Regions from separate parts of the Homo sapiens genome. Here region 1 is linked to region 2. Evidence: fine-mapped expression QTL. A gene starts in region 2. The other region holds a variant in brackets. All regions are shown on one strand. Distances are from middle to middle. Region 1 overlaps CYB5B (cytochrome b5 type B). Region 2 holds the start of NFAT5 (nuclear factor of activated T cells 5).

What was found. PIP is the estimated chance that this variant, and not a neighbour inherited with it, causes the effect. A credible set is the group of variants that fine-mapping cannot tell apart.
Region 1: its variant is the best candidate, but not a certain one, in a credible set for the expression of NFAT5 in whole blood (GTEx, PIP 0.51).

Annotation. Positions count from the first base shown.
Region 1 is chr16:69,447,584-69,452,958 of GRCh38, forward strand. It overlaps CYB5B (cytochrome b5 type B), which reads left to right. Exons shown (of 5, transcript NM_030579.3): 3 at 532-561. Among named protein-coding and RNA genes, the nearest start is that of CYB5B, 26 kb to the left of the region's middle. The variant G/C (reference allele first, on the strand shown) is at 3,044.
Region 2 is chr16:69,563,407-69,568,781 of GRCh38, forward strand. It overlaps NFAT5 (nuclear factor of activated T cells 5), which reads left to right and starts at 2,560. Exons shown (of 15, transcript NM_138713.4): 1 at 2,560-2,968; 2 at 5,089-5,142. The coding sequence starts at 2,896. It overlaps MIR1538 (microRNA 1538), which reads right to left and starts at 2,462; the gene lies at 2,402-2,462. RefSeq lists enhancers at 628-1,524, 927-1,066 and silencers at 2,186-2,565, 2,285-2,461, 2,756-3,025, 3,046-3,355.

The sequences.
Region 1 (5,375 bases), 120 kb before region 2:
AGTATGCCAAGATTGCACCACTGCACTCCAGCCTGGGTGAAAGAGCGAGACTCTGTCTCAAAAAAAAAAAAAAAATTATTAAAATGGAAATTCATTCAATCTAGCCATCAGGCTAAATTTTCTCCAAAATTGTCTAGTCTTACTGTGCTAGGATATAGCTTCTTCTTTGCCAGGTAGCACATGTAATATCTCTAAAAAGCTAAGGGAACTGATTCTGGATTATTTTTATGTGTTGATTTATTTTTGTAATGCAGTTAATAACACCTTTACCTAAAATAGTGGTTTGCTTGTTTTTGCAAGCTCCTTGCTAAAGGTAGTAATTATGGACTTTAAAAACTATCCATATATACCATTCTAACAAGGGACTCTGATATGCTCAGAGTAGAGGTATCTTTCTATGGATCCTCAAATCTCCCAGGGAATTCACTATCACCAGAATATAGTCTCATGTTCCAAAGTTAGAAACAAGCATATAGTGAGAATTCATTTGGCTATGTCTTAAAATATTATTTGTTTTCCTTTTTTTGACAGAGTGACCTTAAACCTGAAAGTGGTAGCAAGGTAAGAAGTCAGCGGTTTGTCTTGTGTTTATATTTGTGTTTACTCAAGTAGGACTGCTTTTTGAAACATTTTTTCTTAACAAGAGAAGTTACAAAGTATTTACTTTTTCCCCAAGCAAAAATCCTATTTTTCTGGAATTTGGACTCAGTATCATCTCAGGAATAAAAGAATAGCTGAGTCTTGAACAGTAGGAAACATTTTGCTAATGCCTTTATACGCTTTTTTTTTTTAACTGAAACTCCAAAGCTATGCCCTGTGTGGTTTTGAAAGAAATTAGTTTATGGGTTCAGTTGTGGAAAAATATCTTACTTTTACATTATGTAGGACAAGTGATAATAATTGTTTCTGTGTTGGAAAAAAATAATTGCAAAGTTGTTTTGTTTCTTATAGGTTATCTTCTTTATCTGTAATACAGAGGCCTTTCTGTACTTATTTTCCAAATTTAATTCTTTTTTCCTGTAGGCTCAAACAGGCCCACACCCTTCCCGGTTACTTAGTAATACAGCGAAAACAAAAGACTAAGTATTTGAGTGTTTGAAAACTTTAATGTGTACTACATTGCATACCAGGAAGAAAATATGGAACCATTTTCTGCCTCCCACATGCTAGGTGGTTCATTTCCCTTATTCCCTAACAATTTTCCTTAATTTCTGTCCTTCAGATAGCTGGTACACAGCACTCTAATTTAAAGGGACAGCAGTTTAGGTGCCACCTAGAACATAGGAAAGTGATGCTGCCTCCCTTCCATTTTCCTCCTCCTTGCTGCTTGCTTCCCATTCCTCATTGAGCCGAAATTACTGAATAGGTTTGACACAGCAATTAAAGTTGGCCTAGACACAAGAATTCTATTAACTCAAGAGATTGCTTGCTTAACAGTGTCTGCCATCTGTTGCCCTGCAATCCAGAGTGTTTGTGTAAATTAACTCTTCCATGTTGCTAGACTGCTACTCTGAACTATTGAATTGTTTCTGAAAGGGGAATGAAATGGTTCTTAAAACACTTTGTAACAACTGTTGGTTGTTTGTCCTCTCCTCCTAACACATGTACTATCCATTCTTGAATCCTTAAAAAAAAAAAATTAAATAGTTCAAAACAGTATTCTGTAAAAAGTTTCTTCCTGTCTCAAGCTCTCAGTGTCTTAGTTCCCCTTCCCTGGAGGTAACCAGCCATCATTTTTTGTTGTTGCTTACTCTTAATAACTTGTGTTATTATGGTAAAATTTGAACGAAGCGTGGCCTTGATTTGTATATTGAACATGTCCAGAAAATACCACTTTCAGAGGTCAACATCTGATTCAAAGGATATAGGAGCCATAACACATTTCTGCACAGCAACTATGAGAGCATCTTTTATATTAAAACAATAGAAAAAATATGTTTGCAATTACAATGTCTAGAAGTCTACAGATTGCTTCTTGTTGCTGTTTTTCTTTCTTGGTAGTACAGTTAGGACCATTCTTAGGAATGTAGAACAATGTTCCCCAAATTCTGTTCTTGTATCACCTCAGTTGGAATCCCTTGGTATGTACATGAATATATATAGGAAATGTTTATTTCTTGGGCTTCTACTCCTACTGCTTTGGAATCTCTGGAGATAGGGTTTAGGAATTTGCAATTTAAGTAATCTAGGTGATAAGTAGGTAGCTAAGCCCAAACTTTTTGCTGAATGATATGCCCATCTTTTCATTTGAAAACTTAGGAAAATTTAATTCTCTTCTGTGGTAAGCATTGTCTGCCTTCTATAGGCCAAAGGATTAGAGATTTCTCAGCTGAATTAAAACTATTGAGCCATCCAGGTGCAGTGGCTCACGCCTGTAATCCCTACACTTTGGGAGGCTGAGATGGGAGGATGGCTTGAGCCCAGCACTTGGAGACCAGCCTGGGCAACATGGTGAGACCCTGTCTCTATTTTTTAAAAATCATAAAATTAGCTGAGCATTATAATGTGTGCCTGCAGTCCCAACTACTGGGGAGGCTGAGGCTGGAGGATAGCTTGAGCCCGGGAGTTTGAGGCTGCAGTGAGCCATGGTAACACCATTGCACTTCCATCTGGGTAACACAGCATGACCCCATCTCAAAAAAAAAAAAAAAAAAAAACCCAAAAAACTATTGAGCCTTAGATTTTTTTGTAAGAAAGATAGAAAAAGAAAGCATTTAAGCTCACCAAGTTCTATAATAATTTAGAAGTCTCCAAATGTAGTTTAGCCCCTATCTGGGTTAAAAAGTGACTAAAGGCAGTGTTTTCAATCCTGTTTTCCTCATGTCACTGTACTCAAGGGACATGTCTTCATTAAGTAGAGAGTCTGGCTATTGTGTTTCTAGTCACTCTGCTCTACTTCAGGCAGATCAGGCAAGAAAGGCCTTTTGGAACATTTTCAAGACCACCTACATAGGTTTTTATAGAGCTATATTCCAACCTGACTTCAGTTCCAGGAAGAAATTCTTGATCTCTCAGATTTATTTCTTACAGAGGTTTAAATAGG[G/C]ACTTGGTGTCTAGGATGTAGGTATCTCTCTTCTCCATACTTTATCTGGTTTAAACATTCACCATTAAGAAATGGAAATGGAGTTCATTTCATTGGTTACCTTCCTTTCTCTTGGTTCATGGTTTCTGAATCTTTATGAAGAAGTGATTTTTAAAAGTCAAATTAAAAAGTATCTTCAGCCTATGGGAGAGAGTTTTCATTTCCATTTTCCTTCTTCTCCTTCTTCTACTCCCTGTCTGAACTGCACCATCCCTACTGCCCGCCAAGAAAGAAACACTCAAAATGTTGCTATTCCAAAGTGTAAGTCAGTAACCATTCCCTAATTCTTTTAGAAAACACCTTTCATATTACTTTTATAACACAGGTAAATAATTAATGGTCACCATTGTTTTATTGTTAGATGGATAGTACCTGAGTTGAAGGCCCAGAATTAATATACTAAAAACGTAAAGACTTAAAAACTTAAAGATGTAGCAACAGATTTTTTTTTAACCCGCTTCAATCAAAAATAACTAACTAGAATTAAAAACCATTTGTCTTTGTGAATCTCTTCCTTGCTGGATTAACCCTCATGCTGAGAGCCGTCAATCTCCTACTTATATTTGACTTAACATTTTTCTGGTTTGTTTTTGGTTACGGAAACTCACCTTAGAAACAGACTCAGTGCTCTCTGTGCCAGTTTGCCTGCCTGCTTGCCTGCTCTTTAGCAAGTAACCTATAAATATTCGTGGTCTATGAATTCTCTCTTTGATGATGTATTTACTTCTTGGTTAGCTGTTTTATCACTTAATCTGCCATCAGTTCAAGAGATAAAGTGCATACAAATCGTAACCTGACTAAAAAAGTGGGCACCATTTCATTCATTTCTTCAACAGATATTATCTAGATAATAGTTCAACTGCTTTACTAGTTAAATCTTGTAGTCAAATAGGTCTAGTAATTTGACCTGTTCCCCATTACATTTTTTTTGAGTGAGTATTATAAAATGTACATGGTAAAAAAAAAATTTAAATAGTTCAAAACAGTATACTATAAAAAAAGTTGGCCGGGGGCGGTGACTCACGCCTGTAATCCCAGCATTTTGGGAGGCTGAGGCGGGCGGATCACGAGGTCAGGAGATAGAGCCCATCCTGGCTAACATGGTGAAACCCCGTCTCTACTAAAAATACAAAAAATTAGCCGGCCGTGGCGGCGGGCAACTGTAGTCCCAGCTACTCGGGGCAGGAGAATGGCGTGAACCTAGGAGGTGGAGCTTGCAGTGAGCAGAGATCGCGCCACTGCACTCCAGCCTGGGCGACAAAGCGAGACGCCGTCTCAAAAAAAAAAAAAAAAAAAAATTCCCTCGTATATCCAGCTCTGAGACTTTTAGTTCCCCTTCCCTGGAGGTAACCAGCCATCATTTTTTTGTTGTTGTTTACTCTTCCAAAGATTCCATGCATTCATAAGGATGGATGGATGGATAGACAGACAAACCAACCATCATTTCCTTTAAAAAAGTAAAAAGCTGGCCGGGCGCGGTGGCTCAAGCCTGTAATCCCAGCATTTGGGGAGGCCCAAAATTTGAGTAGTCCCAGGTACTCGGGAGGCTGAGGCAGGAGAATGGCGTGAACCCGGGAGGTGGAGCTTGCAGTGAGCTGAGATCGCGCCACTGCACTCCAGCCTGGGCGACAGAGCGAGACTCCGCCTCAAAAAAAAAAAAAAAAAAAAAGGTAAAAAGCCTCATACATACTATTCTTCACCTTGCTTCTCTTTACTTAAAAATTTTATTTGTTGGCTGCACACTGTGGCTCACGACTGTAGTCCCAGCACTTTGGGAGGCTGAGGTGGACGGATCACACGAGGCCAGGAGTTCGAGACCAGCCCGGCCAACATGGCGAAACCCCGTTTCTACTAAAAATACAAAAATTAGCTGGGAATGGTGGTGTCCCAGCTACATGGGAGGATGAGGCGGTAGAATGGCTTGAACCTGGGAGGCACAGGTTGCAGTGAGCCAAGATTGTGCCAGTGCACTCTAGTCTGGGTGACAGAACGAGACCCTGTCTCAAAAAAAATTTTTTTTTTATTCATCATTATTTCTTGTCAGTTTATTAACATCTTTTGGGCTGGGGGCGGTGGCTCACGCTTGTAATCCGAGCACTTTGGGAGGCCCAGCTGGGTGGATCACGAGGTCAAGACCATCTTGGCCAACATGGTAAAACCCTGTCTCTGCTAAAAATACAAAAATTAGCTGGGCGTGGTGGTGCACACCTGTCGTCGCAGCTACTCGGGAGGCTGAGGCAGGAGAATCGCTTGAACCCGGGAGGCGGAGGTTGCAATGAGCCGAGATTGTGCC
Region 2 (5,375 bases):
GTCTCAAAAAAATAAACAAACAAAAAAACCCGAAAGAATAGAAAAGAAAAAAAAGAAAAGAAAAGAATATAGGCCAGGTGCCGTGGCTCATGCCTGTAATCCCAGCACTTTGGGAGGCCAAGGCGGGTGGATCACCTGAGGTCAGGAGTTCGACACCAGCCTGGCCAACATGGTGAAACCCCATCTCTACTAAAAATACAAAAAATTAGCCGGGCATGGTGGTGGGCGCCTGTAACCCCAGCTACTCAGGAGGCTGAAGCAGAAGAATCACTTGAACCAGGGAGGCAGAGGTTGCAGTGAGCCGAGATTGCACTGCTGCACTCCAGCCTGGACAACAAGAGTGAAATTCCATCTTAAAAAAACAAACAAAAAAGAGAATATATCTCTGTAAGAAGACAGGTGCAGGGGGTGGGAGTGGACACTGATTTTTCAAATACCTATTTAGATATAATCCGTGCTTAATGCAGGACCTAATGAGGTAAGTGAGGCCTGAGCCCACAGAATCCCTCTCAGGGAATTCGCAGTTTAGGTCAAGCCACACTTTGGTGGGCCTCTCTTCACTTTGCTCTTACCTAATCAGGGGAAATCTGATTAACATATACAACAAAGCCTCAACGGGGAATAAAAAGGTCACAAAAGGGCAGAGAAGGATTCACAGAAAAAGGAAGAGGCCTTGCCAGTTCTTGACTAGTTAATTAGGGTCAGAACCGTACTGGGGATTTCCTATACCCTAAGTTTGTTAAGTGATTACATCGGTCTGGGGAAAAGGGATCTGCTCAGAGTGATTCAGTCAACTTTCTTAGTATCGGGTGGTGAATCGCATTTCCTCTCTGCTACCCTGTATACTGACTAATGGGTGGCGTATGGGGGGTCTCCAAGAGGTGTGTTTACTCCAATTCAGAAGCTATAGGATTTCAGTAGGCCTTGGCCTGTTGGGCAATGTGAGGTTTCAATCTTTCTCTCTCAAATGAGTGGGGCTCTTATCAGTTATGAAGGGACTTCCCTTGGGACTTGTCACGACACCATACAGCAGAGATGGCAATTTGAGGGCAGTTTCTTGTTCTGCTTTGCCATCTTGGGGTGGCTCTGAAAAGCTTTCTGAACCTCCGACAAAAGAAAAATGTTCACAGGATTGATTACTACACACAATTCAGTGAAGACAACTGGGCAACCTGAATCAAATGTTGAGATGAAAGATAGGTGAGCTCTGATGACACACGTTTAAATTCTAGGTCTACAGGTAAAACTTTGTAAAGGGCCTTGCCTCAGCGACATCTGTACTGGGCCCTCCTTTGCTGAGAGCTTCTTACCCCAACCCTAGCACTCCAAGTCCCGAGAACTGCTCAATTTCATGGGAAAAAGTCTCTATAATTATATATATATGTATATATGTGTGTATATATGTATGTATATATATGTGTGCATATATATACACATACACATATTACAACAGACTGATTTTCATGAGTTGTAACTATCCTTGTAGATAAAAAACGAAACCATTCGAATAGCTTAAAAACCATGCCCACGTGGCTACTGGCATCAATATTCCACACAAGATTAAAATTACTTCCCAAGATGCACACCCTGCACTCCAGGTAATATTTCAATAACTTGATTAAAAATTTCTCAGAAGTCTATTAGAATCAGAAAACGCTCTGCGGTGTGGGTGAGGATTTTAAATTTTTGCAACGGAAACTTTTGGCTCCACGAACAGAAAAGCAAGAGCAAAAACTCAGTTAAATGCGTTCTTCCTCCATCTTTGCCTAGTCCAAAAGGAAAAAAAAAGAAACAGAAAAAAGAAAAACTGTTTGGAAGAGTAGCGTTGAGGTTTGCTTTTTACCTGTTTTTCCTCTAGAACAGCCAGGTGGATTCACATGATCCAATTTTTTAATTGTCTTCTATGTCCCACTCCGAATAACCCGGATGCCCCAGCACAATCAGAGAGATCGTTTTTTTTAAAAAAAATTTCAGCCTCCAAAGGTAGGAGGGGAGTGTTAGGGGAGAAAGTACTTTAATTAAAAATCAATAACTCGAGGTTTTTGGGATACGGTTTGCCATTTCCTAATTAAGAAATGGGTTTGACAGTCCCTTTGTACACACTGCTATGCAAACCCCAAAGGGTTGGCGGCTGTCCGGGCGATGACACTCCGGTCCCCTGCGAGACCCCGGGCCAGCCAGGCCCGTCCGCCGCCGGCCTCTGGGGTCCGTCCCCGGCTCGCGCAGACCTCTCGCTTCTCTCGGCTCTGTCTCCTGCGCTCAGCTCTGCTCGGGGCCGGCCGCCTCAGGCTCGCCGCCACCAGGTCGTTGCAAATACCTTTTCCCTCCCCGGGGCCCCAGCGCGCGGCCACCTCCCAGCCTCCCCCCCTCCCACCCTGGCAGCGGGGCCCTTTCCCGGCTCAGGAACAGCAGCAGCCCGGGCCGCGCCGGCAGGAAGCGAGGCCCATGTTGCTGCTGTTCCCTGGCGCGCCTCCCCGCCCTCCGGGGGCCGCCACGGCTCTTCCGCGCTCCCGGGCACCCCCCTCCGCGCCTGCGCTGTGCCCCACGGGGGCGGGGCTCAGATTCCTGTCAGCGGCGGCGGCGGTGGCGGCGACCGTCAGTTTTCGCTGAGGAGAAACACGAAACGGACCCTTTGGCTCTCCCCCTTCCCCTTCCCCGTCCTGAACCCCTCTCCTGGTCACCGAGAATCAGTCCCCGTGGAGTTCCCCCTCCACCTCGCCATCGTTTCCTCGGTCCTCGGCCCAGTGGAAGTCACTACCCTCGAGGAGGAGGCAGCGGCAGCCGCCCTCGCGTCGCCGCCCCCGGTTCGGTGCCCGCGGTCCCGGAGAGGAGGTGCCGCCGCCACCGCCGCTCCCCCCCTCCCGCTGCCCTCGGGCCGGGCTGGGTCGAGCTGCGATGCCCTCGGACTTCATCTCATTGCTCAGCGCGGACCTAGACCTGGAATCGCCCAAGTCCCTCTACTCGCGAGGTGAGTCAGGCTGTGGGGGGTGGGGCGTGGGGGCGGGGAGACAGGGAGACAGGGAGACAGGGCCAGGGGAGGCGAGGGGTCCCCGTCCCGCCGGGGGCGGCTGAGCCGCGACCCCCATGGCTTCTTTGGCCGGAGCGGGCAGAGGCCGAAGGGATCGGGGTGACGGTGGAGGGGGCGGGCGGAGCAGTGGCGGCCCCTCCCCCGCGGAGCCGCCGGCCGCTCGGGGCCCAGATTCCGTCGGCCCCCGGGGCTCTGCGGCACCGGTCGCTTCTAGCCGCTCTCAGCCCGTCCGGCCCCGCCAGGCTCCGCGAGCCGCCGGCCCCGGCCTCCCGGGCTCGGGGATGGCCCCAGACTGGGCCCCGCGCTGGGGCCACCGCGATCGGGGCGCCGCGTCTTCTCTTACCGGGACCCTCCTCCCCAGCAAAGTTGCCCCCAAGCGGGCGGCGTGGCCTGGAGCCGGTTCTGAGTGCAGGGTCACCATTTTCCTCCCTTTCCAGCTTGTTTTTGCGCCGTCGTTCCACCCCCTCTCCCTCCGGCCTAGTCCACTCCCTCCCCATGTTGGGACAGCCCCCCTCGACCAGGCGTTCTTCCTTTCCTCGTCATCTTCTTGCTGGAAAGGGCCCGATGGAAAGGGCCCGAATTTTCTTTTCTTTTTTTTTCTCTTCCCACCTCCGTGGCATTCTAATTACTTCTCCCTTCTCCTTTACAAAGATGGGGGTGCCCTCTCTGGATTGGTTTTATTCCTCTCCTCTCCCAGGAGGACCAGCCCAGGCACAGACGCTGTCCTTTGAGAATTTTCTCTGCTTTTCCGTTCAAGGGCTGGTTGCAGGGAGGGAGCTCAGGCAGAGACTTTTCATTTAAGAACTCTTTTGGCTAAGGCCTGCAGGGGATTCCCAGCATCTGAAATATTAGCACTGGAGCTGATCCCTACTCAGGTGAAATTCCTTTACTGGACACCACAAGAATGTGTCAGAACAGGTTCCCTGTGCAAGGGGCTTCAAAACCAAAATATTCCCACTGCGCTCTTTACGCTTTTTAAACCACCGGGAGGGGGCAAAAGACATAACTGGGTTGTTAACTATTCATTTCACCGTGTAAAAAAAAATGTAGGTGTTTCTTCTGCTTTTGGTTTGATGTATCCATCCATTTGCTTATTCCACCCCCTCCAAAAAAGGGACTTCACCTTCCTACTAGTGTATCTAAATTGTTTAAGTGAATCAGAGTGAGATGGTTTACTCTGAAAGGTGCTGGACTTTACAGACTGACCATTGATTTTGTACACAGAGTCCTACTTAGTAATTGTAGCCACTGTCTGTTGCTCCAATGACTTTAGTTGGCAGCCACCATCCTGTAGGATGTTTTTCGGGCAACATTACCTGAGGTACTTTAGAAATATTGTAGTTTTGAATGTCAAAAAAAAAAGAGACATATCAAGAGATGATTCTTAGAGCAGGGCTAATGTGTTAGAATTGAGTGCTAAAAATAGCCAAGACATTAACACCATTTGGGGAGTAATCATCAGATAATTTTCCATGAAACATATACTTTATGAAAATCTAAGTTTAGCTTCGAGACCAATGTAGAGACAATTCAGCCTCTTTTGCGGGGAATATATTCACAAATATGGGCTTTAGCGCTTAAAAATACACTGCAGTTGGCCGGGCGCAGTGGCTCACGCCTGTATTCCCAGTACTGTGGGAGGCCGAGGCAGTTGGATCACCTGAGGTCGGGAGTTTGAGACCAGCCTGACCAATTTGGAGAAACCCCGTCACCCCGTCACTACTAAAAATACAAAATTAGCCGGGCGTGGTGGTGCATGCCTGTAATCCCAGCTACTCGGGAGGCTGAGGCACGAGAACCACTTGAATCCGGGAGGCGGAGGTTGCGGTGAGCCGAGATCGCACCATTGCACTCCAGCCTGGGCAAAAAGAACGAAACTCCGTTTCAAAATGTATGTGTGTATATATATATATGTGTGTGTGTGTGTGTGTGTGTGTGTGTGTATATATATATATATATACACACACACACATTGCAGTTATATAAGAGATGTATGCTATCCTTGGCATTTTTTTCCTCATTCAGCATAAAAAGTACCTAATGCTTTTTGTGTTTTTCAGATTCTCTGAAGTTACACCCATCACAGAATTTTCATAGAGCTGGACTATTGGAAGGTCAGCAAAGTACCATTTTAAAGCATATTGTGTTAGTATGCAAAGGCTTTCTCTGAAATGGAGTTTAAATGGGAAAGTATGAAACTTTGCAAACTCACACAATGTAGTTTTCTCCTAAAGAGTCTGATCCTTCTTTTAGAGCAGCTGAATGTTTCAATGGGTTTTGTTGCTGCGTTTGATGTGCTTGTTGGCTGTTCTATCTGCTTTGAGAAACATTGAAAAAAAAATCATTT